Regions from separate parts of the Homo sapiens genome. Here regions 2, 3, 4 and 5 are each linked to region 1. The links come from fine-mapping of genetic effects on gene expression. A gene starts in region 1. Each other region holds a variant in brackets. All regions are shown on one strand. Distances are from middle to middle.

Evidence for each region. PIP is the estimated chance that this variant, and not a neighbour inherited with it, causes the effect. A credible set is the group of variants that fine-mapping cannot tell apart.
Region 2: its variant is the best candidate, but not a certain one, in a credible set for the expression of SDK2 in whole blood (INTERVAL, PIP 0.88).
Region 3: its variant is the best candidate, but not a certain one, in a credible set for the expression of SDK2 in cerebellar hemisphere (GTEx, PIP 0.77).
Region 4: its variant is the best candidate, but not a certain one, in a credible set for the expression of SDK2 in whole blood (INTERVAL, PIP 0.67).
Region 5: its variant is the best candidate, but not a certain one, in a credible set for the expression of SDK2 in whole blood (TOPMed, PIP 0.59).

Annotation. Positions count from the first base shown.
Region 1 is chr17:73,642,438-73,647,536 of GRCh38, reverse strand. It overlaps SDK2 (sidekick cell adhesion molecule 2), which reads left to right and starts at 3,092. Exons shown (of 45, transcript NM_001144952.2): 1 at 3,092-3,512. The coding sequence starts at 3,449. LOC124904054 (a long non-coding RNA gene) reads right to left here and starts at 2,063. Exons shown (of 2, transcript XR_007065893.1): 1 at 1,843-2,063; 2 at 1,433-1,716.
Region 2 is chr17:73,720,192-73,725,290 of GRCh38, reverse strand. No RefSeq gene overlaps it. Among named protein-coding and RNA genes, the nearest start is that of LINC02092, 64 kb to the left of the region's middle. The variant C/A (reference allele first, on the strand shown) is at 2,198.
Region 3 is chr17:73,346,318-73,351,416 of GRCh38, reverse strand. SDK2 (sidekick cell adhesion molecule 2) reads left to right here. Exons shown (of 45, transcript NM_001144952.2): 42 at 627-767; 43 at 1,042-1,180; 44 at 2,692-2,818. Among named protein-coding and RNA genes, the nearest start is that of CDC42EP4, 37 kb to the right of the region's middle. RefSeq lists an enhancer at 3,246-4,095. The variant G/A (reference allele first, on the strand shown) is at 2,888.
Region 4 is chr17:73,549,282-73,554,380 of GRCh38, reverse strand. The region is part of intron 1 of SDK2 (sidekick cell adhesion molecule 2); the gene reads left to right. Among named protein-coding and RNA genes, the nearest start is that of SDK2-AS1, 38 kb to the right of the region's middle. RefSeq lists an enhancer at 5,059-5,099. The variant G/A (reference allele first, on the strand shown) is at 2,073.
Region 5 is chr17:73,570,896-73,575,994 of GRCh38, reverse strand. The region is part of intron 1 of SDK2 (sidekick cell adhesion molecule 2); the gene reads left to right. Among named protein-coding and RNA genes, the nearest start is that of SDK2-AS1, 60 kb to the right of the region's middle. The variant G/A (reference allele first, on the strand shown) is at 2,454.

The sequences.
Region 1 (5,099 bases):
TGACGTGGCGCCCACTGTAACTGTACCGATGCAACCTCTAATTATACCGCTGGTGGCAAGAATGAGCTCATGGTGTCTGCAAGTGACTTTCCCAGTAACGAGCCCCTCTCAAAGTGGCAGACTCCCAGCTCAGCCTTCTCCTGGGCCAGCAAAACTCTGGCAAGAGGCAAAATCAGAGAGTTCCTTCCTGTGTGTGTATGTGTATGGGTTGAGGCCAAAAAGAGCTCAAATCTTCTTCTTCATCCTAGATGGATGGAGACCGAAATCTGCTGTAGGAGCTGCAGGAGTGGTGTCCTTTCCTCTCTAACTGGCAGGCATGCCTGGAGACTTCCAACAAAGAAAAGGAAACCTCCTTCCTCACACCAGTCCCTGATGGGTCCCCGTCTCACGTGTTAGGGATGAAACTCCCAGAAGAAGGTTTGTAGGGCTCCAAACGGTTGTGCAAGAGGCCTCCTCTTAATAAGGGAACGATGCTATTCGAGGCCCTAGGCACGTGGAGCTCACATTCCTGCCTGCTGGACTTCTGGGAATTGGGCACGATCAGGGTGGAATCCACCCAGGTTTCAGACTTTTATGTCCACGCGAACTCCTACCCTCTGTGATGTAAACGGAGATGCAGCCCTTTCTGCTATCTGGCCTAAGAGACAGAAGGAGAGGTTCCCCGCAAATACGGCTCTCAGGCCCCCTCTGTGAGCGAACAGAGTAACAGCACCCTAAAGACCAGAGCTCTTCCTGACAGTCTGGGAAGGGCCTGAGCTCACAGCTGGGGACATTCAGAGTATGTAGGGGGTGTGCACTGTCACATCTGGGCATCATTAAGCAGGTGGGAGTGACATGGCCACCAAGGAGAAGGAGAGTTGGTCACATCTAGGCTGCCTGCCCCCAAAGCCCTCGCATTTACAAATCAGCCAGCCAGAGGGGCTTCAGCTGGGGATGGAGCAGGTTGCCAGGGGGAAATGTTGTTTGAATTAGGTGATTGAAACGCTGTAGGCAAGGCAGGCCAGCTTCTCAGACATTTTTAATAAATGCTTACGGTTCTTCTTCCAAAGCAGGTGAAAGGAGAATATATAAGTAACGATATATTTGCGGTGGCTATGCCTATTCCACAGCAATCACAAGGGGTGTCCTTGGGGTGGGAGTGCGCCTGGGAAAGAGTTGGCAATCAGTGAGTGACAGTCCTAGACTTCAAGGACCAGAAAGACTAGGCAGCCGTGGGGGACCAGACTAAGTAGGACCACGAGAGAGAGTAGAGAGAAGCACTGTGGCAAAAGATGGAGGGTCTCACTAGCTCTTTATTTCCCAGAAGAAATATCAGACACGCAGGGTAGACTTCTGCATTAAGCACCGCAGGCCCAGTGCCAGGGACCATAGTCTTTTGGGGCCCATGAAAATGTTTTGATTTCTTTTAAAATCAGAAAAAAATAAGTAAAGCTTTAGGCTGAAGAACATGTTTTAATATGCAATATTAATATACTTTTCCTTATGCCAACGCAGTTGCAAAATCTTATTTTTAATAATTTTGTTAGCAGGGAAAGGAGTCCACCGAGGCGAAGGCACCTGAAATTTTCCCAGTGCCCGGGAAATTTTAACAGAAGCCTGTTAACCCCAGCTGAGCTTCGTGGAGTAGGCGCTAGCTCTGGGCCACAGCAGAGGACGCCTCCGGGCTCTCTTGTTTGAATTCCTCCACCAATGTCCGGTTCTTCTACTCTTTACAAGCTGGGCTCCGAAGGAAAAAAGAAGAAACAAAGAACGCACGCTCCTTGGCACCAACTTCACTTTCTCAGGCTTCTGCAGGTCCCAGGCCTCCCGATGTCTCCCCCTCCGCCCTGAGCATTTCCAGACCTTGGAGAGCCTGACTTGGGAAGGGGAAACTGGAATCAATCGGTTGACCGACCCCCTTTTCCCAACCGCCGCCTCCCCACCAATCACTCCATGTCCGGAAGGGGGCTGGGGGCTCCCGACTATAGGAGACTCTGGGAGTCCTATGAGGCCTTTGAGACAGGGGCGCGAGCGAGGCTGGAAGGAAAGGCTGGGCAGAGAGCGGAGGGGCTCGCGCGCATCTCTCCCGGCGCGGCAGAAGGTTGGCACTGCTGCCCCCCTGCGGGTCCCAGAGCCGCTGGGCGCCCGCGGCCGCGCAGTCGGATTGTATTTCTGCGGGGCTCGCTCCCGGGCCTGGCTCGGGGCCGCCGCCGCCGCCGCCGCCCCTCCCGGCGCGCAGGCTGCTCTCCAGTCGCGGCCACGGGGTAGCGCTCGGCCCCCCTCTCCGCGTCTCCGCCTCCGCCGCGCTCGTCCCCGGCTCACGCTGCCCCCGCAGCTCCGGCTCGGCGCAGGCAGGAGCGGCTCTCTGGACGCCGAGCCCGGGAAGCGGAGGGCGGCGGGCTCGGCGAGCGGCAGCGGCGGCCGAGGCGCTGGGGCGGCCGTTGCTCCTCCGGCCCGGGAGGTCGGCGATCGCCGGGCGTCCGAAGGGGCGCCGCGTCCCCGGAGCCGGGGCTGCCCGCCGGGCTCTCCGTGCGTCTTCCCGAGAGCTCCGGCCGGGGCGCGGCGGAGGGCAGAGCCGCCGGTCTCCATCCTCGGGCCGGCAGGAGGCTCTGCGCCCGGGCGCCGGCGACAGCCCGCGTCGCGAAGCCCAGCACCCTCCCCCGCCGCCCCGCGGCTGGCGCGGACATGGGCGCTCAGGGCTGCGCGCCCGGCTCCGGGACCCGCAAAGTTTGCTAGCCGGCTGGGCGCGGAGCCGAGGGCGCGCCCGGCCCCAGCGCCCCCGGAGGAGACCCGGCGTCTCCCGATTCGGCGCGAGGGCGGTGGAGCCCAGAGGGGGTGGTTCGGCCCCGCCAGATGCTGCCTGCAAAGTTAGAGAGAAGAAAACTTCAGCTCCAGGGAGATTCGGACCGCTATGCTCACCGCGTCCCCCGAAACCGGCGCCCCTAAAAGAACCCCCGCACCCGCGTCTGCCACTGCGCTCGGCTCTGGCCGGGTCCCGGGGGCCCGGCGCCTGGAACGGCGGTGACTGCGTCGGCCGGGAGAACCCAACCAGGGGGCGGGGAGGGGGCGGGCAACGTGGCCACGGGAGGAAGTTTCCTGAAGTTGTCCATTTATTCCGGAGCTCGGCCGGCGACCCGGCCGGATCGCAGAGGCCGCCCTGTTTGGGAGAAGTCGGAGTTGGGGTGCTAAGGGAGAGAGGCGCCCTAGTCCGAGAGGGCGGCCTGGCCTCTTTCTCCCTGCTCGCCCCTCGCCTTCCGGGCGCGCTGCCGGGCTCGGACTAGTACAGAAGAGGAGGAAGGGTTGGGGTAGCCAAGCGCTGCCCCTCCCGGGCATATTACACCCCGGGGCACGGAGCCGCGTAGACTGACTGTTTCCTGGGACTAAGCCACGGGGTATCGGACCCCACCAGGATTATAAAACAGGGCGGAGGGAAGGGAGACCCCGAGGACCCCTCTCCAGGCTGGTCACCATGTGGGGGCTTTTGATCTGGACACTGCTAGCTCTGCATCAGATCCGCGCGGCCAGAGCCCAAGGTAAGGAGGGACCCCCACGTGGGGACAGGGAGGGGGCTGGGAGAGTGGGCGGGGGAGGGGCGGCGGGAGCTGGCCGGCCTCACGGTGACCTCCTGGACACCCGGCTTAGCCGTGGCAGAGCCCTCTCCAGGGAGTTTCAAGACACCCCATCTCCCAAGTTTTGGGGCTCTTTTGGGGGTGGGGCAGTCTCTCCGAGACTTGTGGCTTCCGAATGGGGGAAGGTGGGGACGACCTGGGGAGGCAGAGAAGAGCCCAAGGTGAAGTGGGAGGGGCGCTCCCCTCCCCCCGTCTGCTGTGGCTGCCCTGCGCCGGCTTGGGAGGGGAGCGACATTCCGTGCCGGGCTCCACGCTCGGCTACGCTGAGCTTCCCAGACCGAGCTCCTGGTTCCCTGCTCGGTGTCTGCGGGGAAGGGCAGGGCCCCTGCCGGGCAGGCGATGGCCTCCCCGGGGCGAGGGAGTGGGGTGGGCGAGCGCTGGATGCCGGGTTGCTCGCCCGGGGAGAGCAATTGCCCGGCTTGGCCACGTACGGGAGCCCGCCCCTGGCTGCTCGGCCAGCCGCTGGGGCTGGGGGTGCTTCGCTGCGCGGGCCTGGAGCCAAGGTCGCGGGTGCAGCCGCGGACCCACCGGGGGGTGGTGCACAGGGAGGGTCTGAGGCCTCCCCTCCTACCCATCCACCCACACCCAGCATCCCCGCCCCTGCCTCCAGCCTCCGCTGTTCGCTCGATAGTCTGTGCAGCCGCTCGCTGCTGTGACCTGTGGCTGCCGGGAGCAGCCTCGCGGTGGAGAAGGGCTGGTGGCTTTGGGTTTGGGAGTGCTACGAAGGATCCGAGGTGTGATCTGCGCTGCCCGCTTCCTGAGGGTGGATGCCCAGACGTCCCCCTGGTCCCCGGGCAGGTCCCCGAGGTGAAGGGCGGCTGCACCGGCGGTTCCTCGACTTTGGGGTTCGCCGATCCAGACAGTGGTGTCAGCGGTGTCCGAGCGGCGCCTGCTGGGGGCGGAGGGAGACGAAGCCTGGACCGAGCTCCAGGACTCGCAGGGCTAGGCCTTCACTCTCGCAGGCTCAGGAGGGGGCCAGACCCACCCTAGGGGTCCGGACTGTGGGGGCTGCAACCCACTCCCCACGCCGCCTCGTGCGCCAGGCAATCCAGAGAGCCAAGATCAAAGAGATGAAAATAATCAGCTCTCACTCACAGGGCTGAGGGGAGGATTTTACGAGGTAATTTACATAAAAGCACTTCGAAATTTTGTAACGAGCCCTATAAATGTAGGGTAATAAAAGTTATTATTTTTATGATCATCATAAAATCTTTGAACAAGCGAGGACCTCAGAGGTCATCTTATTCTAGTAGCCATTTAACAGATAGGGAAACTGAGGCCAAATGGCATTAAATGACTTGCCCAAGGCCACTCTGTGATCTGGGGGCAGAGGCAGGTCTGGAACCAGATGAGTTCTGAGCCTCTCTCCCTCAAACCAGGACTAGCTGCATGGGGTCTCCTTGGTCTGGGCCCCCTCTCTGAGGGGTCCCAGGAGGACCCTGATGCTGGCAGAATAGGAATGGGTTGTCCTTCATCCTGGAGCAGCCTCAC
Region 2 (5,099 bases), 78 kb before region 1:
ATGGTTGTTATCAATATGATTATATGATTATCAGACATCATCATCTGCAATTGCTGTCACTGGGTAGGGCCTCCAGGGTCTCTGCCTCCCGCAATATGCACAGACCCTTCATCACAGACGTGCATATGCACACGCACACACATACACTCCAAGTTACATCAGCATTCATTCCCAGTTTGCCTAAAGCAGATTTTTCACCTGAAAATTCAGGATTCCTTGCCAGGTCCCTCTTTCTGGCCTGGCATGCAGGGACCCTGCCCTTTTTCTGCTGTCAGAGACACATGTCTGCAAAGCCAAGCTAGTTTAGGAAAGGAAATTTGTTGTAAATTGGAATCCTAATGCATTCCAAATGAGGTGATTTTTGCATTATTGGCTGTGTAGATAGAACTGTGCCACCGCCTCCCTCCATGGGGTCGGGAAGGGCAGGAGTACAGCTATTGTTCCGCGTTGGATGCTGGGTTTGAGTCCGTCGCAGAATCACAGTCCGGAATCTCAGAGTCGAGAGGCAGCTTTAAGGTCATTGCATCCCTAGCAGCTCTCACAGAGGCTGCTCCGGGCAGCCTGATTCCCCTAGGCCCCGGCTCCTGAAGGCCTGGCCCAGGGCTCTTCATGCAATTTTCCAGGTTCCTTGGACTGTATCTGTTTGGTCCTGAGAGTCTCCTGCCTAGTTCTTTCAACAGGGATGCTCACAACAGGACTCCACAGCCAGTGCTGTGTGTGCCCTCTGTCCCATGCCCCACAGCGCCTGCAGCAGCTAGATCCAGGTCTCGTCCATCCATGGTGACATCGGCCAAGACCAGAGCTGGAACATCCTTCCCCTCCCAGCAAGCCTGAGTGTCCAGAAAGCCCCTTTCCCTCAGGGATCTTTGGCTGGGCTCTAAGATCTCAGAAGTCTCTCCCATGTGTGACTATCTGAATTTTGTCAACACCCTCATAGCTGCAAAAAATCCCAAAGTGGGCACAGCAGGGAAGAAGCTATTGGAAGGAAGCATTTCCTGGGACCTGCCCCAGAAGGGAAGTGGGGACTGCTGGACAGGCCAGCTCCACGCCCTCTCCAGCCTCCCTCTCCTAGCACTGCTGAGCAGGACGTTGATTTTAAGGGAAGGACGTTGATTTTAAGAGCTACCCATTCCAGTGGCAATTAAAAGGCTCTGGCAGTGGCACGGGGCTTGTGCTGAGAGCTGGGAAGAGGCTTAATTAATTGCTCTAGTCCCTGGGAGCCTCATCAGCTCAGCCAGGAGCTCCATCGCTCTGTACTCTCACACCTGATAGAGCCTTGGCAGGCGAAGCCAGAGGGGACACAGGGCTGAGGAAGGGACTGAACCCTAGGCAGGAGAAGGATCTGCTTTTGCTCAGCGCCCCATAGCACACCCACCAAATTACACCCACCCCTACACACACATCTGGCACACACAGATGCACCTTCTCATACAAAACTAGAGGGCCTGTGGGCATGGGGATCCTATATTCCTGTTTGCCTGGGACACCTCCCATTTTACCTGTTATTGTGATGTAATCATTAATAGTACCTTTCCTAGTTTAGAGGATAATTTACCTGATCACCTACTTGAGGGGAGCTTAGGAGAGTGAGAGGGATAGGAGCAGATTGGAGAGATGCTACCGAGGATGGAGACATCAGTCCTATTTGCTTTGTTCTCTGTCCAGATCCTGTATCCTGGACAGAGGCCCCCTGGGAGTGGCTACTGAAGATTGCTATATCCTTCTCAACTCAGATGAGGATTCCCCATGTCAAATTCAGGAACACGAATCACGTGATACTCTGCTTCAAAACCTCACAGTATGGCAAAAACCCTTAGCTTTTAGGCAGGGTGAATGATTATATCTGCTATTATAAATCACAAAGACCTTTCTTATCGAGGTATCTGCATATCTGCTGCATGGTTATTGGTGTCAGGGAATCAGTTTTAAACTGTAAGTCCCCAGGGAAGATGTGGAAAGCATGTTGCATCTTGGGTGTCAGCTCTGGATCTCGGCATTCGTGGCTGCCTGCTGTATTGGAGTATGAAGAAGGATTCTGAGGCTGTGTCCCAGTTGAACATAGGAATATCATGAATTACATCTGCTTGGGCCACGGGAGATGAATTAGTGAAATCCTTGACTGGTATCTGTCAGTCTCGTCCCAGAGGGTATCAGAAGTCTCAGGGTGTCTCTCGCTGCAGAGCCTTGGCCTAGTGCC[C/A]TGCTTGAATGAACGTTTGGGAATGACCCTGGGAACACTCTGCATTGCCTACAGGGCTCTCCCTCCAACTGCAGTACAGTCTCACTGCAAAGAGGGCACATTGTTGGCTGCCTGTCATTGGGAAGAAAATTGGACAAGTCTGGGACCAAGAGATAGCTTGGGTGGGCAAGATACCTTCTCAGAATAGCATCAGCCCTTGAAGAAATGGTCTGCCCCTGCCTGGTACCAGGCACAGCTGTGATACATCCAGAAAGATACATGGACATCCTGCCCCTCTCTTCTTCCTGTCTTCCTCCATCAGACCTCAGCCTCCAGCTTCTCAGGCAGGACAGCAGGGAGGCTGCCTCTCCCTCTTACTCTCAGAACCTTACCGTGGCCTGCTTATTAAAAGAATTCCACCCTTAAGGAATGCCTAATGTAAATGATGAGTGAATGTGTGCGGCAAACCAACATGGCCCATGTATACCTATGTAACAAACGTGCACGTTGTGCACACATACCCTAGAACTTAAAGTATAATAATAATAATAAAAAGAATTCCACCCTTAGACAGAGAGGCAGCAATGCAGAAGCTTTCTTGGCTCCACAGTCAGAGCTGCCACTTCTGTGGCAGGTGTTTCTTTGAGGTCTGTTTGGTCTCTTCAGTCACAACCACCCACCTCAGACAGGATGTTGTCTGTTCTAGGGTATCAGAGGAAGTATTTGCAAACAGGCCCATCTGTTCAAATGAGAACCAGGCTTCTCTCCCAAGCCTCACAAGGTCGCAAAGCCTGCGGTGTCAGAAGCTCTGCCGAATCCTTTATCATGTGTCTTTCCAGCCAGCGGCTGATGAGAGATCGTGTGTGAGAGATCATGTTGATTTGAAATTCAGCTGGTCCAGAAGGGGCCGGTCCTCCCTGTTGGCCATTTCAGGTCAGCTCCATAAAGGATGCAGAGGATGGGTTTTCATGATGGAAACACACGGCTGATATTTGCAAAGCTAGTTCATCCAGGAACATGAGTACAGGGTGAGTTTTTGGGGAGTGGGTGAGGTACAGGTGGCGATTAAGTCACTGTGGTGTGACTCCCATGTTGTCACAAAAAGATTGACCTTCCTGGCTGGGCACAGTGGTTCACGCCTGTAATCCCAGCACTTTGGGAGGCCAAGTGGGGTAGATCACGAGGTCAGGAGATCAAGACCAGCCTGGCCAACATGGTGAAACTCCGTCTCTACTAAAAATACAAAAAATTAGCCGGGCGGGGTGGCGGGCACCTGTATTCCCAGCTACTCGGGAGGCTAAGGCAGGAGAGTCACTTGAACCTGAGAAGTGGAGGTTGCAGTGAGCCGAGATCACGTCACTGCACTCCAGCCTGGGCAACAGAGTGAGACTCTGTCTCAAAAAATATATAAAAATAATTAAAAAAAATAAAAAAAGGCCAGGCACGGTGGCTCATGCCTGTAATCCTAGCACTTTGGGAGGCTGAGGTGGGCAGATCACGAGATCAGGAGTTTGAGACCAGCCTGACCAACATGGTGAAACCCCATCTCTACTAAAAATACAAAAAATTAGCCAGGTGTGGTGGTGCATGCCTGTAATCCCAGCTACTCAGGAGGCCGAGGCAGGAGAATCACTTGAACCCAGGAGGCGAAGATTGCAGTGAGCCAAGATCATGCCATTGCACTCCAGCCTGGGCAACAGAGCAAGACTCTGTCTCAAAAAAAAAAAAAAAAATTGACCTTCCTGATTCTATGACTGAACCTTGGCTGATGTCATGATTACCCAGAAAACAATCCCACTGGCTGAATTATGAAGTTAAAGAATCCGAACCCCAGAAGTTCCACTTCGCCAGTGACAACAGCCAATGAATGAACCATGTCCACAAACCACGCTGAAGCTAAGCCTCCGGACCGACTGCTCCACTTTTCCCTTAGATTTTGTCTCAGTGTAGTCCTATATGATGTCAAAATAGCTACCTAGGTTCAGCCCAAATCTCTGACTCTGGAATATGGAGGTTTAAATGGCTTAAAATGTTCCTGTATGGAGGCAGAAGAAAGAGACAGAGGAACCCTTCCCTTCAGCAACTGTGGGGTTGCTTCTTATAAAGGGCCGATTTTGTGCACTTTTTCCGAATTTGAGGCACGTTCAAAGCTGATTCCAAGTAAAACTATTGAGCAGTTCCACTTTTAATGTATTTGTCCCACAGGTTCTTGGTACCTGTTTGAACTGCCCTAAAAACAATCCCTAAACCCATAGACCTTTGCTGTCACTGGTCTTAGTTCAGGTTCACCCAAAAGCAGGTCCTGGGAGAAGGATCCAGTACACCTTTAGGAGATACAAGACCACAGTCAGGGAGGCGGGAGGGGACACAGGGAGGACAGGCAGCAGGGGAGGAGGAGGAGGAGCAGGGGATCAAGCCAGCACCCACGCTGGCAGCTGGAGCTTAGTCCTCCGGGGTCCTCTGGTGACCTGTAGAACAGATGCCTCCAAGTCCTCCCTGCTGAGGGCAAGGTAGCTGGGGTATTTATACACCCAATCCCCTCAGCCACCAGCTGAGTAGGCTGCTCTGGGGGAGGGTATTCATTTCCCCTCTTCTGACAAAGCAAACTTTTACAGCTTTAGAAAAAGCCCTCAGGCAAAGAGATGCAGACACTGGCAGGTGGAGTCAACAGGAGACCATGGAAGCCACCAGGCCCCGTCTAGCGCAAGCCACAGCACATTCTAGCTCAGAGCCCAAGGTTACCTTCCTGTCCTGTGCACAGGAGACAGGAGATTCAGCACCAGCGCTGGGCCTCAAGGCCTGCAGTGGCTGTTGTCTCGGGGCCCAGGGCTGGTGTCAGCCATACCAGCAGGTGGCTACGGCGGGTGACAGCCACATCGCTGCCTTCTTCCTCCTTGTGTGCCCTGTTCTATCCTAGAAGGTG
Region 3 (5,099 bases), 300 kb after region 1:
GAAAAGGGGCCGGGAACGGTGGCTCACGTCTGTAATCCCAACACTTTGGGAGGCCGAGGCAGGTGGATCACCTGAGGTCAGGAGTTAGAGACCAGCCTGGCCAACATGGTGAAACCCCGTGTCTACTAAAAATACAAAGATTAGCCGGGTGTGGTGGCAGGTACCTGTAATCCCAGTTACTTGGAAGGCTGAGGCAGGAGAATTGCTTGAACCCGGGAAGTGGAGGTTGCAGTGAGTCAAGATCATGCCATTGCACTCCAGCCTGGGAAATAAGAGTGAAACTCCGTCTCAAAAAAAAAAAAAAGGGGAAAAAGTAGCTAACACACTGCCACTCTCCCCTCCTATGTCCCTGGCAGACATCACTAATCAATCTTAGCACTCTTTCCTATTGAGCCAGGTAGCCATCTCAGAACTCATCTGACATCAGCCCTCCAGGCAGCCCTTTACCGACTGATCAGAGCGGATACTTGAGGTGAAACTGTCCTTACAGAGGTTCTGCCTCATTCGGAGGGTACAGACCCTGCCTTCCCATAGATTGTAGCAGTTAGTAGGGTCCCAACTGGAGCAGGAGATTTGGAGGGAGGAGGGGGCTGAGCACCCTATATACCTGACTATCTGTGCTCCAGCCCAGAAAGCCAACCCCTTCTATGAGGAGTGGTGGTTCTTGGTGGTCATTGCCCTGGTCGGCCTCATCTTCATCCTGCTTCTGGTCTTCGTGCTCATCATCCGGGGCCAGAGCAAGAAGTACGCCAAGAAGACAGACTCGGGTGAGTGAGCTGGCACCAGCCATGCTGGCTGGACTTGAGTTTTATGTATCTCCTTTTTGGCCAGAACAGGGGTGATCAGGTCCCTCTCCTGGCTCCTGGCAGCGCACCTGCTCTGGTGGGTGGGGCAGCCTAGGGTTTCTACACACAATCTCAATCTCTTATTTTGGTCTCAACTCTACCAAGAGAAAGAGGGGATAACCCAGCCAGGTGGAGAGTGGTATGGGAGAGGGGAGGCCACACAGTCTAAAGGGTGTCAATCTCCCGCCGACTTCAGGGAACAGTGCCAAGTCTGGAGCCCTAGGCCACAGCGAGATGATGAGCTTGGATGAAAGCAGCTTCCCTGCCCTGGAACTCAACAACAGGCGGCTCTCCGTCAAGAACTCTTTCTGCCGAAAGAACGGCCTGTACACCAGGTACTGGGCCCTCTGCGTGGGTTGGGGGCCAGGCCCAGCAGTGCCCAGGTGGGGAGAATGCTGGGGAAGGCCATAGAGCAGGGAGTGCCCACCTGGCCATACCTTGTCCTGGGAAACACCATTCAAGCCCCAGGGCTGGGAACGATCAGCAGAAAGACACAGTGGGGCCCAAGCAGGACAACTAGGGTCCCAGTCCCCACCATGCCCAATCACAGCCTGGGGGTGAGGGCGCACTGGGGAGAAATTTACAAGGAGGTAGCTACTAAGAGTTCCTGACAGTGACAGTAGAATGCAAATAACTGGCAAAATTTTTCAAACCAACCTACTGATGTTCGGAGCCAACTGCCAGGGAAACAGCCCTGCAGATCGTCACTGGCCCCAAAGGCAAGACAGGCCCAGCCAACGCAGACCGAGCAAAAACACCTTAGCGAAGGACGCCTGAGCACCCGCATTATCGCTATGCCCTCCTGTCTTCCTCCCCATTTGGGAAACCCTCTCCCCCAGGTCCTTATTTATACCTATTAAAGGACAACCTCCTATCCCCATCAGCCTCAAAGGGCAGCATCTGAAAGCAGCCCATGAGGACAGGACAAGGCTCGTGGTGCAAGCACAGCTCCTATTTTCTTCTGACTTCTTTCTAACCCCAGCCCCCTCCTAGGCCCTACTCCCTGTGGCCATCGGGCTGCCCATTTCCAAGGGCAGGAGCAGCTGCTGGGGCCCACCTGACCCTCCCCTGATGTGTGGCGGTTTTCTGTTCCCCTGAGCTCAAGAAAGACTGGGCCAGAGGGCTCCTGTCTCCAGCCTCAGCCCTATTGGCATTCCCAGCTCATTGGAGGCGGCAGTCAGGAGGAGTCCAGCCTCTCTCAGGAGCTCACAAAGCTTCCCTCTGTCTCTGTCTTAGAGGGACGAAGCTATGTGTGTGTTCATCTAGAGGATGGAGGGAGGAGCTCCCAAAGCCGAGCTCTTATCCTCTGCCAAATCCAGCCTTCCAAAGAAAGAGCTGTTTGAGGCCCCCACAGCAGGCCCAGCCAGGCCCAGCATGGCCATAGCAGCCCCGCCAGGCTGGCTCCGGGGCCCTACTACATGTAACAAGGGGGCATTTCACACGTGGCCTCACCTTCCCCTGCCCTTCCCAGCCTCTCCTACCCACAGTGCACACACATCCAGGCCCCTGTGTGCCCCCAAAGCCACTGTGTGTACACAAAAATCCCGTTTGCACCAAAGCAGCCCCAGGATGTGGGGTCCTGAACCCAGCCACGGTGACATCCCCCCTACATTCACCCTGCATGTTGCCATGACAGCATTAGCCGGGCACCCCATTTTTCCCTCTTTGTCCTCCTCCAGATTCCTACCTCCCAGGCCCGGGCCCCTGGAAGGCAGACCCAGGAAGGAGGAGGAGCACAGGGTGGCAGGGATCCGTGTTCCCCAGGCCCCCACTGTGGTCTCCCTAGGCCAGGGGAGGCCGCTCTGAGTGAGTGCACCTCTCGGCCCCACTCCCCCGCTCTCTCCAGGTCTCCCCCCAGGCCCAGCCCAGGCAGCCTGCACTACTCGGATGAGGATGTCACCAAATACAACGACCTCATCCCTGCAGAGAGCAGCAGCCTGACGGAGAAGCCCTCAGAAATCTCCGACTCTCAGGTGAGGGCAGGAGGGCCAGGTGTCCTGCAGGGGGCAGGGAGCAGCGCCTCCCAGAGTGGGGCAGTGAAC[G/A]TAGATGGGCTTTCTTCCTTTCCTTCAAGGGGCAGCAAATATTAAGGGGCCCAAGAAACCACCCTGAAGTCATATATGGGCCATCTGTCCCCTCCCAAGTTCTGCTCAAAGTTTGCGGCCAGTGCCAATGGGGTCCCGGGAACCTTGATCATAGGGGGTACCCCGAAGAAGACGGCCCTCTCTACGTTCAGGGGTCACCCCACAGGCTTAGTTACTCATTAGGGCTGTCCTGCAAGAGAGCACGCTGAAGGTGCGGAGAGGGAGACTCTGGGGAGAAGGTTGACACACAGCCCTGCATTCCAGGCCAGAGACCTGGAAAAATGCTCAGCTTCACTACTCACGCATCAAAACAGCTTCAGAAACAAAGGGCTGGGTGCCCTGGAGCCCTGAGGATGAGAAGCAGTGTAGACCAGGGAGACATTAAGCTTTGGAGGTTTGGACCTGAGTGTGAATCCTAGCTTTGCTGCTCGTGACCTGGGATGTCCTGGGTGTGCCAAGTAACCTTTCTAAGCCTCAGTTTCCCCATCTGTGGAACAGGCAGGGGTGATACTAGGCTCTGTCCGAGGCTGTGGGGAGGATCTGCTGAGTTAGACACTGGTGAACTCAGTGTAGAGCCAGGCACACGGCAACCATTCCGTAAATGTCAGCTTTTATATGAAGAGGGGGTCGGTGCCTCTGGAAGACACAGAGCTTCAGAGAGCGGCCATTAGGTGGGTCACGTGGGGACACTGTCCCAGGCTGTGTGGGGAAGGGGCTGTGTGTATTCCAACCATGCAGCCTTACAGCTTCCCACCCTCACCCTCTGCCTCAGCCAAGCCCAGTGGTTATTGAGGAAAGGGCCACGAAAGGCCACTGCATCCCACGCCCTGGACCTTTCTGCCCAGGCCTGGGAGAGGAAGTGAAGGAAGAGGTGCCAGCAGGGAGCTGGGCTGCTGGCTGTGCAGGAGGTGCCAGGAAGCCTGGGATCACGCTGTGGGCCCCGTGGGCTGAGGGCCTCCCACTCACTGCTGTTTTGTTCAGCTCCAGGGTTACTGATGGGCTTGGCAGAGCTGAGAAGGCTGGACCTAACTCCCTAGCTCAAAGCTGGCAGGGACAGAGACCCCCAACTTAGCATGGCTTACCCAGGAACTTATTGTGGGGGACAAAACCCACGTGATCCAAGTTATGAGTTTTTTTGTTGTTAAGCCAGGGTCTTGCTCTGGAGTGCAGTGGCGCAATCTCCACTTACTGAGACCTCTGCCTCCTGGGTTCAAGTGATTCTCGTGCCTCAGCCTCCAGAGTAGCTGGGATTACAGGCATGTGCCACCACCCCTCACTAATTTTTGTATTTTAGTAGAGATGGGGTTTCACTATGTTGGCCAGGCTGGTCTCAAATGCCTGACCTCAAGTGTTCCCCCGCCTCAGCCTCCCAAAGTGCTGGGATTACAGGTGTGAACCACTGTGCTGGCCCCACTGTGGTCCTTATGAGGCTCCTAAATAAGTCAGTGCTGCTGCCACTCAGCCACGTGAGAAGCAGCTCGGCTACCAATCAGCATCTGCAATGCGGAGCCCCCACCATTGCGACCTTCAAGTGGGGGCTGATGGGGATGCCACTGGTAGTTCTCCTGCCTGTGACAGTTTGTGCAAGGGTACGTCCCTGAGGATCAGCAGCTGCACAGGCCAGGGCCCCTCGGTTTCAGCCGCCAGGAAAAATGACTGCCTCTCTTTTCAAGGACACCCCTTCCCCCAGGTCTTTGGAGAGTGGGTTTTGCATACGCCACCTGGTTTATATTCTGAGACAGACCACCCAAAACCCACTCTCCAAAATTGGCAGAAATCTGCCCAGTCGTTTTCCTGTGATATGGCAATAAACAAAGCGTCAGTTTGACTTATAAACAAACACATATGATGTGATGTGAGAAAGGCTATAATTCAGCTGGGGGTGATGGGCTAGAGGAGAGAGGGGCTGGCTCTCCCGTAGAGGGCCCAGGGTGCAGGAGAAGGGGGCACCAGGCAGAGGGCAGGATGCACACAAAGACTGGAGATTTAAAGGCCTGTTTGATGGAACTTTAACACTGCAGCCTGGCTGGACGGCAACTTCATTTTCAAAAGAAGAGCCCAAGTTTTGTACAAAAAAAAAAAATGTATATACTTAGCACACAAGTAAATCTCAATGGAAAAGAAATTCCGAGCCAATGGCACACACCATCTAATCTTGATCTTCAGTTCTTGC
Region 4 (5,099 bases), 93 kb after region 1:
CTGTAAAGATCCTATCTCCAAATTTAGTTGCATTCTGAGGTACCGTGGCTTAGGACTTCAACAGATGAATTTTGGGGGCAGGAAGTTTGGCTCATAACAGTGTGGAAGTGGTTCTGCTTCATCTAGGTGCCTTTACATAATGGATTGATGAGCTGCCCCTGTGTGCCTGGCATTGCGCAAAGCACTGGGCTTCCAAAGGGGAGGATGACTTGCCCCCTGTCCTCATCAGGGGGCCTCCTGGAAGAAGTAGAAGACCTGAAAGGGGGCAGAGACCATGGGTTGATGAGGACAAGGGATCTGCTCCAGGGTTAGGAATAGGTGGTCCCAGCTCCCCCTGGAGGACATAAAACCCCTCTCCCTGTGAGCCTCAGGGCCCCAGCTCCCCTAGTAACCCTCCCTCCATGCTCCTGTCCTCTCCTCAATGGGAAGAAGCCAGGGCTTCAGGGGGATGTGTTGGGGCTGCTAGGTATCTCCCCTTGAAGAGGTCTTCTGCAGGCCAGATTTATACCTAGGGAGGGAGTAGGGAAACCACCACTCCTGCATCCAATCTTATGCCCAAAAAGCCTGAAGGGAATCTGAGGCTCAGGCTGGAGCTGGTCATGCCCCCTCTGCCAGCACCTCCTCAGGAAGGGGGTGACTGGCATCCCTGGGTGAAGGCTATGCTGTAACAAGGGTGGGGGTTTGGGGGTGGTGCTATTCACCTGCAGGAGGTGTAGGCCCGAGGAAGGAGATTGCAGGTGGGATGGAGGCTGTGGCCAGGTAGTGGCTCAGGGGTGACCCTGGGCCTCAAACCTCTCTGTCCCCCCCTGTCCTTCCTTGTGCTATCCTGGCTTCTGAGAGGGCAGCTCCCTGCAGGAAACACCATCATAGGAATAGGTGCAGCCGGCAGGGCTTGGGGGTGACTCACCACTGGGCTGCTCACTGGCCCAGTGACTTTGGGCAGGACTTGTTTGATCTCTTGAGGCCTCAGTTTTGTCATCTTTACCAAGGGGATAATAACATCCACCTTCCAGGGTCACTATGGAGACCCTGGTATTAAATAGGCAGTAAGTCCTGGCTCAAAGCCCTTGACAGTGAGAATGGTCTATCAATATCAATTTCCCTACTGGAGGCAGCCTTGGGCTCCCACCACTGGCCCCCCGTGGCCTGTCCTGCCCCATCTCTGCCTCTTGCCTCTGATGGTATTCAGAACACACACACACCCCAGAAGGTGCTTCCATGCTCAAGGCCACCTCCATGCCCAGAGTGGGGCCAAGAGCTCCCTCTGGCCCTTCCCTCCCAGCCCCCACAGAAGCCTCTGCCTTTGCATTCATCCATCCAGAGAAGCAGCGTGACGCTGCAGCCGTCTGCCCTACCTGGGAGCTGCAGCCAATCCCAAAGGGTTGGGATTAGGGTGCTCGAGGAACCCAGAACCCAAACGGGTCTGAGCCTCTCCTCTACGGCTCCTCTCCAAACAGTTCATCCCATCTCTGAGCGCCAGCCAGAGGCTCAGGGCAAGGGCTCTCGAGTTGAGAACTTGCCAAGGAGAGGGCTTAGAGTGCAGTGTAAACGAAGCCAGAGCGAGAAGTGCAAATGAGTTGGTTCAAAGATGAAGTCGCTTAGGGAACTTCGTCTGGGAAGCAGCCTACAGCGGGGTCCATTGGCAGGGTAGTAGCACCGTCCTCAAGCTCTGCAGTCAGCCTGGCCGGGCTCAAATCCTGTTCCCCCGTATCCTGCCAAGTGACTTAACCCATTTATGCCTCAGTTTCTCATAGCTCAAGTGGGCGTGATGCTCGTACGTACTTCTTGAGTGCCGAGAAGCTAATCTAAGTGGCTCATGATGGGTACTCCGGCCGAGTACACTCAGACCTGCGCCTCGACCACTGACCGCTCGGCCATCAGCTGGCAATGTGGACGGCCACCCCCTCAGGAGGGTCCCCTGCGCCACTCCAGTTTCAATGCGTGACACAGATGTCATGCGTCCTCGCCAAGCTGCCTTAACATGAGGGGGTTCTATCTCAAATATGTTTCACAAATGAATAATAAAAACAAAGGAAAATTACCCTCTTTATTGAAACTCATTTTATGAATAA[G/A]ACAATTATTCTGGTAATTGAAAAAATGTGTCGTTAAATTAAATGCAGTGGTTCCTATTAAAATTTTAGTGCGTTTCTGCTGCTGCCGGCTAGAGGCTGGTAATTATAGACGAGAGTTTCGCTTTCTCTTTATTGTTTTTTAATCTCTCTGTGCTGTGGCTCTCCGACAATATTTTATGTCAGAGAGATTTAGAGCTGGGCCCCAGACAGGGGGGACAGGCTGGCCGAGGGGTGGGGGGCAGGCGGTGGGGACTGCAGCGGCACCTGCCTGACTCTAGGTTGCCTTGCCACCCTGGCTGTCCCACAGTCTTGGTTGGTCTCTTCACCCATCTATCAGTCTGGTGGCAGCCAATCACAGCCCCCTGAATCTAGTGCCCTCTCCTCTCTGACCCTCTTTTTACTCAAAAGGGGTTGGAGACAGAAGGGAAGCCTGGAGTTGGGTCTCCAGATGGACTGGGTCTCAGCTTCCTCTTGGAAGCTGAGTTTGGAAAGCAGCGGGGTGGGGTGGTCTGAAGGTCCCCCTGCCCTTAGGGGGACAACTAGGGAAGGTTGCAGAAGCTCTGCGTGTGTAAGCACCGTGAGGGCAGGGACCAGGCCTGTCTTGCTCGCTATGGCATCCACAGCGTCCATAGCAAACAGTGTGTTGGAGGCTTTTAATCCATGTTAAGGAAGGAGGGGAGGGAAGGAGAAAGGAACAGCTGTATTAGAGCCTGCTTGGTCCAGGAGGGGTTAGGTTGAGAAAAAGGTGGAAGAATGGCCTAGAGAAACTTGGGGTATCCTTTCCAAGTCACCCCTGACACCAGAGATGGAAGGAGGGAGAAAACCGAAGGCCTCGGCCGCTCCGCCCCCTCCCCATTCCTGGCAGGAGCTGCGAGGCTCCTGGGCTCACTTAGACCGTCAGTGACTCCCGGCAACATGTTATATGTCTCTGGCCCAGGCCGCGTTTCTGTTCTTTGTCTGGGAGATTAAGCTCCTGGTGGGCAAGGTCTCTGGCCATGCAACGTGCCACGGGGAGCTTGATGAATCGGGCTGGGGTGGGAGCGTGTGGGCATTTATCACGAAGGCACCAGAAGCTGATGGGGAGCCGGCCGCCATCACCCAACAGTGTGGGAGGGAAGACAAGGTGCGCGTGGAGTCCCCGGCTAGCGTGCTTTGTGGCTTCAGGCTACCACCTCGACCCACTGTGTCCTTCGTGGGCTGTGACCTCTCAGGTCCTTTCCTTGTCCTGCCTCTGCTCTGTCCTGTATCACAGGTGGCTGTCTTCCTGGCTTCCCAGGCTCCCCGGTCAGCTGGCTTCAGGTTAGGCTTGGCCAGTGGGAAGCACTGACAGGAGACAGGAGGTAGGCAAGGGAGAGAAGCTGGGGTCTCTCCCTTCCCTCCTGCCTCCACTGGCTTCCATGAGCAGCTGCGTTTGGCTCATGACTCCAGCTCCCTGTGGACGGGTGACTCGCCCTGGGATCCAGCAACCTCACTTCCTCCCTGGACCCCTCCGGCCTAGGGATGGTAGAGGCCTCTTGTGTCACCGATCTCTGGGTTACCTCACTGTCCCCCGCTGGGCTTCTCGCTGATTATCACCTGCAACCAGTTCCCTGTAGCAAATTCCTTCTGTGCGAGTATAGCCAGTAGTTTCTGCTTTCTTGAGTGGACTCTGACTCCATGCCAGCCTCCTTAACATCCCAGGAAGAGACGTGTGGCAGGAAGCTGCAGGGTAGGGGTGGGGGAATGGGAGACGGTCAAAAGCTCTGTGGCTTCCTTGGGTCCCTCCTGCCCTTCCACCGCCACCCTGACTCCCCCGCCACCCAGGGTCTCTGTGTCGTGGCCCTCCACCTTTCCAAACAAGTGGCTGCTCATGTCCAGCCCATTCTAATTATCCTTTGGTGCTACTTCATCCACCCCAGGACAGCTTCTCATTTTGGCAGTAATTGAGCTATTTTCCCAGCGGGACAAAGGGCTAGCAGGTTAGGGGTCCCTTCCTGGGGACGTAGCATTAAGCAGCATATATTTCAGAACCGTTAACCCTAGAGCAGAGTCGCTAGGAGGCCGGGGAGAACCAGAGGCTCCTACCTTGGCAGTCTGCCACCTCCCTGACCCCTGGCCCCCTGCTGCAGCAGGCTTAGAACTCCATCAAGCATATTTCCAAGCCAGGCCAGCTCAACCTGACCTGGAAACAGTCAGGAGCACTAGACCTGCCATGCAGGAAAGGGGCAGGTAGGGAGGGGGCCTGGCTGGTGCAACCAGAGGGAGAAACCCGGGGCTCAGTGCCCCCGGGACACAGTGCAGAGCAGCGGGAGGGGTGCATTAGTGTCTTGCATGCATCTGCCTCTATGCACCCCCGGCGGTCCTCACCCACAGTCTCATTCCAGATTCTGGTCACCACCACCCCTCCACCTGGTTATGACCAGGTCCCACTTGGCGTTCCCCACTACGTTGCAGCCAGAGTGATCTTTCTGTTACAGAAATCTGATCTGTTGCTGCTGAAACCCTTCAGTGCCTCTCATCATGCCACCTCGCTCACATCTTGAGCCCCGCTCTCACCCCTCTCCTTGTCTCTGCCCCCCATCCCCTCTCCCACACACTGTGGCTGATGGGACCTGCCGCATTCTGTCTGACCGGGTTGCTGTTTGTGTGTTCACCTCGCCTAAAACTTGCCCCCATCTCTGCTTGGCTGACTCCCATCCATCCTTCAGGGCTTGACTTAGACACTCCCTCTTCCGGGAAGCCTTCCCTGACCCATCCAGCCCCATCTACTTCCCCCATAGCATGACACCTTACCAAGACTTCCTCTTCAGTTGGTCTATGAGCAACTTGAGGGCAAGGGCTGAATCTTTGTTTGCGATTCCCAGCACATGCCAGGTGCTCCAGGAATGGTTTTTGGGTGAATGGATGACGGATCAAATCACTTAACTGAAAATTAATTAATCAGGTACAAGCTAAAGGGCAAAGAGTACCTGCAGAGCTTTGAGTCATGAGGAAGTGATGGGAAGCTTTCTTCAACAGTGAGCAGCCCAGGTGGCTGGCAGCTGCTCA
Region 5 (5,099 bases), 72 kb after region 1:
CATCCCCCACGGCCCCCAGCTCAGTGCTGCATGTATTGGGCTGCAGACGGTGTGGAATTTTGGTTGACTTTGCTCTCCCTTTTTATACCTCCTCTCCCCCTTGAGACTGTGAGCCCCTCAAGAGCAGGCCCTGCCCCTTCGTGAGAATCCACAGCCCCAGCTTTTGTTCGTCTTCCTCTCCTAGCCCTAGCGCTGCTGCGTTGCCGTTGTCTGTGTATGCTCTGTCTCCCACGCTAAGCTGAGCTCCTTGAGCACAAAGATTGTCTATTCAACTTTAATTCCATAATTACAAAGACAACAATCATATCTTACTTGCCAAGTGCCAGACGCAATCCTACATGCTTTACACATATTAACTCGTTTAATCCTGATCACCACCTGGTGAGATAACTGTGATGACTGCTCTATTCTGCAGATATAGTACAGACTGGCACGGAGAGATTACGTGTTTTGCCCCCAGGTCATGGCTAGCAAGAGATAGTGCTTCAGCCCCAAATGAGTCTACCTCAGAATCCAAGCTCTCGTCCACATTGCTATGCCACTTTTCACAGCCTCACATGATGCCTGGAACTGGCAGGCGTTCTGGAAATACCTGGTGAATGAACGAGTGAAAGAATGAAGTGCTGGTTCAGAGTGGCTCCTTCTGAGAGCCCTGGAGTGATTGGGGCAGATTTGGAGTCCATGAGGGAGAACCCAGGGTTTCTTTGATTACAAGAGTTGTCACAGGATGGCCCAGGTCAAATTAGAACTCAGCAGTGGCTTTGATCTTCCCGATGCAGGTGTCATTCGCCCCATTGAGGAGCCTGGAGCCCAGGGAGCTTCAGCAGCCTGCCCAGGATCACCCCAAGGGGAAGCAGCAGAGCCAGGACTGTTTGATTCCCAGGGGATATGCCCATCTTCCAGATTCCCAAACCCAGGCAGAGCCCAGCCTCCCACTAACAGGGGCTCAAGGAAGGTTAATTGTCTGAGACTATACGAGCAGTCCTTTAGCCAACCAGTCACTGAAACCTTGAGCAGAGAGGACAGATGGCTTCCCTAAGTCCTAGGGCTGGCCTCTACTAAGGTGCAAGACTTGAACTCTTGGTCTGTTGGTATAGCCTCCAAACCCAGCACCCTCTAGGGTGTTCCACTGGGTTTCCACCAGAGACTCATACTTCTCAAGACTCAAGACTCACCCTCTTGGTTAAGTTGTACTTGGGTCATTATTACCAGGAGCATCTGATCTTCTAGCATAAGCCAGGGTGGTAGAAAGTGTCTAGAGAGGTGGAGAAGGCCAGTATGGCATTAAATGTTTAGGAAGGAAGCAAGGGCAAGGCATTTAGAGCTTGCCTTGGTTCCGAAGGGGAGGTAGAGGTGATGGTGTGCCCACAGAGGACCTTGTCTCCTGGCTGATAGCTGAGCCTGGTGGGGAGGGCTGGCCTTGAGGGAAAGATCCACCCCCATCTCCTGCACTCACACACAAGGTAGTCTCCTGAAGTTGCAGCTACTGGGAAAAAGGGAGAGAAAAAACTAATAAGGCTGATCAGCGAGGCGTGTATGTGTGCATGTGTGCTTGTGTGTGCACGTACACATGTGCATGCACGTGATGTCAGCTGTGATCAGGGTTGGATCTGATGTTCTTTTATAAACAAATTTAACCAAGGGGAACTGATCAATTAATCAACAATGGATTTAAAAGTATCCATTCATGTAACAAATACTTGTGTCACCTACCCCTAAATTAATAGATATTACATAAATATTCATGTGATAAATATTTATTGGTGTATTAGGCAATGTTCTAGGGGCTGAAGGGACAGGAGCCAAACAACACAGACAAAAGTCCTTGCCTTCATGGAGCTTCCATTCCTGAGGGTCGGGCAAACAGTGAGGAAATGCATAGATGTGGGCAGAGCTTCCATTCCTGAGGTCAGGCAGACAGTGAGGAAGCGCATAGATGTGAGCGGTAGTGTCAGGAAGGGACAGGGCCCACGAAGGCCAGGAAGAAGCCAGCAGGTCTGGGGAGTGGCACTGGAGTGGTCCTCATGGTCGGGGAGGTGACATTTGGAAGGGGGCAGAGACGGCGGAGCCCAGGGCCCCTGAGAGCAAGGCCCGGATAAAGGGCAGGGTTGGGCATGTGTGGAGAGGAGGCTGGAGCACAGGAGAGCCAGGGGCCCATCCACACAGGCCTTTGCAGGTTGCAGTCTGGACTCTGGATTTGACTGGGTGTGAGTGGCAGTCACTGGAGGCTTTGAGCCAGGTAGTGGCATGATCCAATTTATGCATTAAATCAATCCCTCTGGCTGCCATGTGGGGCTAAGGCTCAGGGAGCGGAGGGGAGCAGGCATGCCTGGGAGGAGGCTGTGGTCCAGGCCAGAGCTGGTGGTGGTGCTGCCCAGGGTGATGGCAACATGGGTGGTGAGCAGCAGTTAGATTCAAGGTGCGTTTGGCGGGTAGAGCCAGCAGGATGTGCC[G/A]AGCTGATGGACTGAATGACGACTCCAAGGTTTGGGGTCCTAGCAGCTGGGTGAAGGGTAGAGGTGACCATTCCTGAGATGGAGAAGCCTCTGGGGAACTGGGTTGGGAAGGGGGTGCAGAGTGACCTATCTACTGGCTGTGGGCCTGCTAGTGCCAGGTACCAGTGTCCTTTCCCTGGTGCAGCAGTGAGGCAGGAAGCTGATGGTTGGGTCCCCAGCCCACCACGCTGGAGCTCTGAGGCTCCTCACTCACCCTCCTTAGACTCATCATTGTCTCAACCCAAAGAGAGACCCGAGCCACCTCGTGCACCCACTTCCATTGCCCAACGACCGCCTGCTGGCCCAGAGTGTGTTCTCTGCAGAGTTTTGCTCAGACATTGGGAAGGTGTCTGGGGGTGCTGATTGTGAGGAAGTGGAGGATGGAGAGGCCCCATCCTATATGAGCAGGTCATCAGCCTCCAAGGAGGTGGTGTTGCCCCATAGTAGCAGGGCCATGGGGCAGTCACCCGTTCCTTCATGTGGCACACCTGCACTGGACACCTTGGCATGTGTTGACACTAGACACCTGTGCTCTGCTTCCTGGTCCAGGAAGAAAGAGATAAGAAGGCGCCATTACAAGTGAGCATGCTGGGTGTTTGACGGCGCTGGGAGGCTCCCCGGGAGGAAGTATCTCAGATGAAAGATAAAGGACAAGTAGATACTGACCAGATTGGGGTGGAGGAGTAGATGGAAGACACATCAGTCATGAGGGCTGAGGACACAGAAGGGGTCAATGATAGGAAGATGTTGATGCCCCTTCTCCAGCAAGCTGAGCATCATATGCTTAGACCATTCATTCATTCAGTCAGTCAGTCAATCTTTATGGACTGCCTGCTGTGTGCCTAGCACTGGGCTCATGCTGGAGATGAGACAAAAACAGACATGGTCTTCCTCCCTACAGAGCTCAGGGAATAGGAAGGCGATAAGCAAATAACTACACAAATAGAAATATCACTGGAAAATGTAGGGGTATGCTAAGAAGGTGAAGAGCTGGGTGATAAGAGGGAGGCTGGCATGAGAGGAAGGGAGGGCAGGGCTGGGGACAGGGTGCCATCAGGATGTGGGGGTGGATGGGAGCTGGCTAGGAAGAGGGGTCGGAGCGCTCCAGGCACAGAAAACAGTGCGTGGTGCAGGCCAGTGGTTACTAAACTGTGTCTGCAGACCCCAGAATTCTACAGGGATAACTGAGCCCTCACGGCAGGTAGGGGATAGGACAAAGTGGGGAGGGAGGGAAACAGCAAAACAGACAGGCTGTGGACCCCACCCTCACCCCCACTTAGATGAGGACAACCACCCTTACCTCTGTTATATCTCTTGGGACCCTCAACAGGATTTTGTGGGGACCGAATCTAAAACCATTTGGACAGCTCTGATTTGGTAGAAGACAACACCTGCACTGAATGCCGAGGTCTTGTCCGCCTGCAGTTTAGGCCCCAGAACTGTCCATCTTTCCCAGGCACATCCCCATCATAGGGAGGAGGGGAGTCTCTGTGGGCACCCGCCTGGCCCGGCATGCCCAGGGTGCTGGCCCACCCAGGGGAGCTGGCCCCGCGGGCGCTCCTCCTTCCCCGTGGGCCGTGAGGTTGGCCATGGAAAGCCCGGCATGTGTTGTCAAGGGGGCACCTGGGGCTCTGCCTGTCCTGTCCCTGGGCCCCTGCAGGCTGGGAAATGCCCAGGGAGGAGAGAGCCCCTGTGGAGGGTCAGACCCCGGTCAGAGAGGGCAGGGGAGGGCAGGGCGCTGGCCGGGCCCCAGCCGGGCTCACCTTTCCTGGAAGGCAGGCCGGGCGGGAAACGGTGTTTCCAGTAAGAAGGCGTAGCCCCCGCTGGGCACATGCCCCACACCCGAGGAGGAGAGCTCTCGGAGCTCCTCGGCCCTAATGAGTGCTGTGGAGAGCTGTTTACAGCTAAGTGAGCTGTAATGGCTTTCTGCGGTCATTAGGCACAGGCTGCTTAGAGCGCCCGGGGGGCCACCGGGCTGGACTCCCACATGTTCCCCCCAGGACCCAGATCGATGGGCTCAGGGTTGGGCCTGGGTGGGCCACCGAGCTCCCTGAGTGACCCAGAGTGTCCTGTGGGCATTGGAAAGGGCAGGGAACTTGACTATCTACTGGCTGTGGGGTTGCTAGTACTGAATATCAGTGTCTTCGCCCTGGTGCCTCAGTGAGGCAGGAAGCCGGTGGTTGGGTCCACAGCCCACCATGCCTGGGGCTCAGGGGGCTCCTCTGTCACCCTCCTTAGCCTCTTCATTGCCTTGACAGAAAGAGACCCGAGCTGGGCATGGTGGCTCACGCCTGTAATCCCAGTTACTCGGGAAGCTGAGGCTGGAGAATCGCTTGAACCTGGGAGGCGGAGATTACAGTGAGCCGAGATCGCACCACTGCACTCCTTCCAGCCTCAGTGACAGATCAAGACTCCATCTCAAAAAAAAAAAACCCGAGCCACCTCCTGCAGCCACTTCCCAGCAAACTCCTGCTGGCCCAGAGTTCGTTCTCTGGAGTTTCACCCAGGCATTGGGAAGGTCCCAGCAGCCACTCAGGACCAGACCAGGGCTCACAATAGTCACCCTTGACCCCAGGCTGTGGGCTGAGGAGGAATAGGGGAGCAGAG